Linked DNA regions of Homo sapiens. The protein of the gene in region 1 interacts with the protein of each later gene in a pairwise test. Each region holds a gene or a part of one and is shown on either strand. Other genes may lie near its edges. The genes, in order: FSBP and PLCG2.

What was found.
Region 2: the proteins of FSBP (region 1) and PLCG2 interact in a two-hybrid assay, tested with the Homo sapiens proteins (one large-scale study listed by IntAct).

The regions. Positions count from the first base shown.
Region 1 is NC_000008.11:94,430,332-94,434,020, reverse strand, and holds part of FSBP (fibrinogen silencer-binding protein), read left to right. Parts: intron 1-1,364; coding exon 1,365-1,890; 3' UTR 1,891-3,689. UniProt on the Homo sapiens protein: Transcriptional repressor that down-regulates the expression of the fibrinogen gamma chain. Represses transcription of GSK3B gene promoter via its interaction with APBA1.
Region 2 is NC_000016.10:81,785,791-81,789,615, forward strand, and holds part of PLCG2 (1-phosphatidylinositol 4,5-bisphosphate phosphodiesterase gamma-2), read left to right. Parts: intron 1-152; 5' UTR 153-199; coding exon 200-392; intron 393-3,825. UniProt on the Homo sapiens protein: The production of the second messenger molecules diacylglycerol (DAG) and inositol 1,4,5-trisphosphate (IP3) is mediated by activated phosphatidylinositol-specific phospholipase C enzymes. It is a crucial enzyme in transmembrane signaling.

The DNA.
Region 1 (3,689 bases):
AACCTACAAATAGATTTTTTATTATATACTATATATGTTTCATTTTGTCTCTTAGATAAATATCTGATATTTCTGGCAATTTAATGGCATTAGTAAGTAACGTATGGGTAGTTTTAATCTTTTTCTATGCATTCTGCTTGAACTTGTTCCAGCATTTTAATCATCCATGTAGAATGTATTCTTTTAATTATGTTTCTTATTATATGTAAAATCTTCTCTAAATAATATTAAATAAAGTATTTCCATTCATGTTCAATGATCTAATTTCCCTTTATAACTTTTATTTTTAAGTTAGGCAGAAGCATAAATTAAAAAAAACAACCTCAAGGAGCAGATATTCTTAATTCACAGCTTCACGTTATACATAAAATTATGTTTATAAAACAGAATTTTAAGGTTTATTGCATTTATAATATCATAACTTGTTATGCTGAAGCTTAAATTATGCTAAAGCTGTAGTTGTCTCCATTGGGAATGCATATTTGGTGGAAATTATGTGTAAATTTAATAAACCTTTAATATATCTGTATAGGCCATTAAAAATGTTTCATTAAAAAATCATTTAGTTTGTTTTTTTTCAGTCATTCAACACATAATGAGCACCTACTAGGTTCTAAGTACAGTACCTGCTAGGTACTGAGTATACAGTTGTGGATTAAAACCATTGCTCTTGTGAACTTTACCTGACCAGTGATTGAAAGACTTAAACAGCATCTGAGTCATATGGTTCAGAATAGGTAAAACGGAAGTTTTTCCTATCAGATAAAAGCATCTGAAATAAGAAAGTTAGGATAACCTCCAGTAGTTGAGCATATCCCAAAGCCATATACAATCTTTATGTTTTATTTTTTGGGCAAATGCAGAAATCAGTACCTCCCATAGATGGCCTTTCACTGTCCTTTTATAAGTTATGGGCCTTCATGGTTTTAAGATCAGTCCAGGAGAGCAGAAGCCTGAGGTCTAGGGCTAAGGTATGGGGATAACAAGACTGAGAATGCATTAAATGGCTCTGTACACCATTTGAAAACCTTAGGGTTGTGGGAAAGATTGGTGTCTGTTTGACAACATGAAAACTGGCTTTTCTTTTTATTTTCTTCATTGGCCTTCTATAATATTTGTAATTTCCTGCTCCTTTAAAGCACAATTTTAAAGTTAAGGATGGGGGAGATCTGTGAGTATGTATTATTGAAATCCCAATCTTAGTCACTTTAATGTATTTCAAGTGTTTAAGATTTTTTTTTATTTTGTAACTTTATAGTTTTAAAGCTTTATCATTTAATGTACATTAAATTAAAATTATGCTATAAATATACACTTTTTCTTCATTTGATTTACATATTATAATGCTTTTTTGTGTGCTATAGTGCAAACTTGGATGAGGAGGCACAGGCTGGTACCAGTTCACTACAGGTAATGTTGGATCACCATCCTGTTGCTATTACAGTGGAGGTGAAGCAAGAAGAAGACATTAAACCACCTCCTCCACTGGTTTTAAATTCTCAACAGAGTGATACTTTAGAGCAAAGAGAAGAACATGAATTAGTACATGTTATGGAAAGATCCTTGTCGCCTTCACTTTCCTCTGTTGATATGAGAATGACATCGTCTCCATCTTCTATTCCAAGGAGAGATGATTTTTTTCGGCATGAGAGTGGTGAACACTTTAGGTCACTATTAGGGTATGATCCTCAGATCCTGCAAATGTTGAAAGAGGAGCATCAGATAATTTTAGAAAATCAAAAAAATTTTGGATTGTATGTTCAGGAGAAGAGGGATGGATTGAAAAGAAGGCAGCAGCTAGAGGAAGAGCTACTAAGAGCAAAAATTGAAGTGGAGAAGCTGAAAGCAATTCGCTTACGGCATGATCTACCTGAATATAACAGTCTCTAAGTTTTTTTTTCAATCTTGCAATTTGATAATTTTGATTTTGGCCAAATTACTTTAATTTGGGAATATCCTGAAACAGAATACACGTTCTTGAAAAATGTTGTTAATCTCTATTATGGAAAAACTTTTTAGATATAATTTTCTAATTATTTTCTTTTGAGATATTAAAATTTACTGGTTGGTTGGCATGGTTATAGTTTTTATTGTCTTCTTTTTTTTTTCCCTAAGTTTAATTGTTGACCTTACAAAAGATATTTTATTCTGATCACTAAGATATACACAAATGCATATACAAACACATATTCTTTCAAAGTTCTGAGTCTTCAACATTTTTAGTTAGAACTTTGAAAGCTATAATTAGAGATTTTTAAGTCAGTCTAATTTAGGAGCTATACTAACCTAATACCAAGAAGCTTGTCTGTATGACATTGGTTTTTATGCTTTTATCTTTTGAAGGAGTAAATCCTAGGATTTTAGAGATGGAAGATATTTGGAGAACACTTTTTTTCCATCTCTGCAGTTTAGGGGTAATGAAACAGGTCCAGGGAGAACTCAATGACTTACTTAGGGTAACAAAGCTATTTATGGCAGAGCAGAGACCAGCACTTAGTTTTTCTTTGTGTAATTTCCATCCCGCTATTCGATAGAAGTAAATATCCACTAAAACATTCTCTAGATTTAAATATTAGAAGCATTTCTTTCATTAAAATTGCCTTTAAAGATTGTTAGGTTGTGAAATCAGGATAATTACATCAATTACCCCCATTCTCTCTCTATTTTTGTTCCAGCAAAATAGATAAGGTATTCCATTGAAGCTATTATATATTTTGGCTGTGTGATTTAAAGACATGTCTTAATTCATTTTGAATGTCCTGTTCTGGAAAAAATTTCTTTCACAGTAAAAATCAGAATGAACAAAATTAAAATTTTATGTATTTTATAAGTATTGTTATTTTAGTATTCATGGAAATAAAACCTCAATTCTTAAAGCATACATATTAAATTTATATTAAATCTCTAATATGTATGTTACTTAAGAATTTCTATTTTTGCTGGGGTTTTGTTGAGAAGGGATTTTTAAGCCAAGTTGTAGAATGGGGTGGGTGTAATTTCAGCAGTGAAGGGGACCATGGGTGTTTGAAGTCAAGAGTGAGACGCTGGAAAAAAGACAAAAGAATGGGAAAAAGTGGATTGAGTATATAAGCACAAATGCAGTGCTAAGCCATTGATTTTAAGTGAATGTAGAGAGAGTCAATTTGGGCTGTAGTATCCTGGACTAGGAAGGACATCTCCCTGGACTAGGTAGGGTAGCTGCTGTTTAGCTCCAGCAGAATTTTCACATGCGGGGATAAACCAGAAATCTGCATTTTTTAATGAGGAATCTTCCAATTTTAAAATGTTTGCAAATAACACAAAATGCTTTTAAAACATTATACAGACAACATGTGAGTGGGCCTCACTGAGCCATTGGGCTTCCACTTTGTGGCCTTTGGAGTAGACCAATGGTTTTCCAAGTATGGGTCCTGACCAGCAGCATCAGCATCACTTGAGAACTTGTTAGAAATGTAAATCCATTTCCAAGTGAATTAGAAACCCTGGGGGTGTCAGCAATCTCTTTTAATAAACCCTTTAGCGATTCTGATGCATGCTAAAGTTTGAGAACCAGTGAAACAGAGTATTTTGGAACCTCGCTTGGTGCCTAAATCATACTAGTCTCAAAATTTTTGTCGAAGAGTAGTTGAAAGTGAACTGAGGGATATAAATTTGGATGATGGTTGATACCAGATTATGAATTACATTAA
Region 2 (3,825 bases), on another chromosome or scaffold:
TGAGTGGCCAGCGATGCCTTGCCACTAGAACCTTCTCCTAAAACTCATCCTGATTGACATGAGACAGGATTTTGGTTCCTGAAGTTCATGCCCTGTTAACTAAACCCCTTTCAGTACTAAAATCAGTTCACTCTTTAATTCTGCCCTTTCAGCTTCCTGATTTCTCCCGATTCCTTCCTTCTCCCTGGAGCGGCCGACAATGTCCACCACGGTCAATGTAGATTCCCTTGCGGAATATGAGAAGAGCCAGATCAAGAGAGCCCTGGAGCTGGGGACGGTGATGACTGTGTTCAGCTTCCGCAAGTCCACCCCCGAGCGGAGAACCGTCCAGGTGATCATGGAGACGCGGCAGGTGGCCTGGAGCAAGACCGCTGACAAGATCGAGGGCTTCTGTGAGTACTCGCTGGGTGGGGCAGTGTGGCCCGTCCTCTGGGGCCCTGGCCTGAGCACCTGTCCACCTTCCTGTCTTGTCATTACTGTGATTGTTGTTGGTTTGATGTGTTCTTTTATTCGTCTTAAAATGAAAGCATTGCCAGTTTGTGTGGATCTCTGATGAGGTTTACACCAGGTGGAGGAAGTTCAGCTGGGAAAACTCTGGTGAAAGAACTGAAGCTGAGGTCAGCCAACATGGAAATGGCATTCAGGCAGCTCTCCTTGCCTGGTGGTTCTGTGCCCTGTCTGACAGCATCAGGGATCGTCTGGTTCCCACAACTGGTCGAGTCATCTTTCCTCTTAAGGGCGAATTAGCCCAAGCCTGCAGAAACTCATAGCTTGGTCGCCAAATGCTACCTTGTTTTACTGCATACCATAGCAGTGAGGGGCCTTTGCTTTAGTCTCCAAGCAGGGAGAGTGAGTTGTTGAACGTTTTGTAGCTTTCAAATGCAGGTCTGGTCTTGGTAGAGGTGTCCCTCCTCCCCTACCTCCGTTTGATTGGGCAGCTGGTTCAGATCCTAAAGTTTCTAAGACTGTTTTTAACAAATAGAGTAAAGGCACTTAAGCAATTTTCAGTTGCAAATATTTGCTCTAATTTGTGTTTTTAAATTAACTAGTTTTTAATTGAAATATATATTCCTGGGGGTTAAGGAGTCAACTCAAATATTTCTCCTCCCTAAACCATCCTACTGAGGCAAGCTCATTACCAGTTACTTTTATCTTCCAAAATAGTCTATGCTTGCATAATGTGTGGGTTTAAAAAGAAAACAATTGGGAACTCTTGTACACTTCTGCACCTTGACTTCTTTTTGTTAATTAATAATGATGTTGGCGGTGGTTTCTTATCAGCACACATTGATCTCATTCTTTCTTGGACACATGACATGTAATGGCACAGGCCTCAATGTAACAGTTTAACTCCAGAGAAGGGCATTTCATGCTATTTCCAGGCTTTTGTTATTATTCGAAGTGACTATCATTGTACTCTTTTTTTTTTAAAACAAAATTAATTTTTTTGAGACAAGGTCTCTTTCTTTTACCCAGGCTGGAGTGCAATGGCATGATCATGGCTCACTGCAGCCTCAGCCCCCTGGGCTCAAGTGATCTTCCTGCCTCAGTCTCCCAAGTAGCTGGGACCATGGGAATGCACCGCCATGCCTGGATAATTTAATTTTTTTTTTTTTTTTTTGTAGAGATGGGATCTCACTATGTCCAGGCTTGTCTCCAATTCCTGTGCTCAAGTGATCCTCCCTCCTTGGCCTCCCAAAGCATTGGGATTACAGGCATGAGCCACCTCACCCAGCCTTGCACTCTTTTTTTTTTTTTTTATAATAGATTGATTGAGACATAATTCACATAGTATACATAGAATTCACCCATTGTATGCAGCATGTATAGTGTGGTGGTTTTAGTATATTTATATAAATGTGCAAGCACCACTCCAATCAAAAGTAGAACCTTTATATCACCTCAAGATGAAACCCCATACCTTTCACCATCACCCCATCCCCTCATCCCCCCTACCAGACGTAAGCAACCGTTAAATTTAATTCTGTTTCTATAAACCTCTCTATTCTGGACATTTCATAGAAATGGATCCTATGTATGTGGGCTTTTGTGACTGGCTTCTTTGACTCAGCATTTTTCAAGGTTCATCCACTTTGTTGCGTGGATCAGAAATTTTCCTTTTTGTGGCAGAATCACGATACGTTGTATGGGTATTCCACAGTTTATTCAGTCATCTGTTGACGGACCCTTGGGTTGTTGCCACCTTTTGGCTAATATAAATAGTGCTGCTAAGAATGTTTCTCTACAAGTTTTTGTGTGGATGTCTGTTTTTATTTGTTTTGGGTATATACCTAGGAGTGGAATTGCTGGGTCATACACTAACTCAGTTTCATCATTTTAGGAACTGTCAGACTGTTTTCTAAAGTGGCTGCACCATTTATATTCCTTCCAGTGGTAGAAAAGGGTGATCGTTGCATTATTCTTCATTTGTATATATGGGTATATCTGAAGGACAGCTTCCTGAAGGTTTATTTCTGAGCTGAAGGATATGGCATATATATATTTTAATAGACAGAGTCTCGCTCTGTTGCCCAGGCTGGAGTGCAGTAGTACAATGTCAGCTCACTGCAAGCTCCGCCTCCCGGATTCATGCCATTCTCCTGCCTCAGCCTCCCGAGTAGCTGGGACTACAGGCGCCCGCCACCACGCCCGGCTAATTTTTTGTATTTTTAGTAGAGACGGGGTCTCACTGTGTTAGGCAGGATGGGGGTATGGCATATTTTAACTTTAAAGGGAAGTTTGGCAGCACCCCACAAAAGAGGTTGCCCCCACTGTCTGTTTCAGCCACAGGATGTAAAAGTACCTGTTGCCTGAACCCTCATCTATGCTGCGTGGCTGCTGAACTTGGCCATCCACAGGTAGACTTTGGTAGCTTGGTGTCATCCTTAATTTGATGTATCCTATCATGAGTGTGATCAAACTGCTTTCTGAAAGGCTTTTCCTGGTTTTGGAGCCCAGTGGGTCTCTTGTGGCACAGAGCCAGAGCCCTGCTTTGGAACTGCCCATGTGGAGGTGGCCATCTTCCCTCTTGACTGTTTGCATTGGCCGGCTCCACCCCCAGGTGGCCCAGAAACCTGTTGCAGCTGGGGTGGCCACCCTCCCTTCCCCCACAAGGGGTGAGAGGGTTGGCACTGATGGTAAATACAGATGGGCCACGTTGAGACTGGACTGCAGGTTGTTCCTTTCTCTTCTCAACCTGCCCATCCCAAACCTAGCTGCCCATCAGAAACACCCAGGGGGGATCTTGTAAGTATAGGGTATTAACCATGGCATGTGTATACACCTGTGTAACAAACCTGCATGCTCTTCACATGTATCCCGGAACTTAAAGTAAAATAAAATAAAATAAATATATACAAAAAAGAAATTACAGGGTATTAGAACCTTCTTCTGAAGCTCATTGTGATGGGCATGAGACAGGATTTTGGCTTGAAATCTATGCCCTGTCATTCTCCCCTTCTGCTGAGTAATACCATTTCACTCGCTTACGCGGATGCGCTCTCTCGCTCTCTGTTTTAGAGACAGGGTCTTGCTCTGTTGCCCAGGCTAGAGAGCAATGGCCTGATCATGGTTCACTATAGTTGTGAACTCCTGGGCTCAAGTGATCCTCCTGCCCAGTCTCCCAAGTAGCTGAGACTACAGGTGAGTGCCACCATGCCTGGCTGATTTTTTAACTTTTGTGTAGATAGGGTCTTGCTATGTTGCCGAGGCTGGTCTCCAACTCCTGGCCTCAAGTGATCCTCCCACCTTGGTCTCCGAAAGTGCTGGGATTACAGACAGGAACTACCATGCCCGGCCTCAATTCATTCTTTTATTTATCTGTTC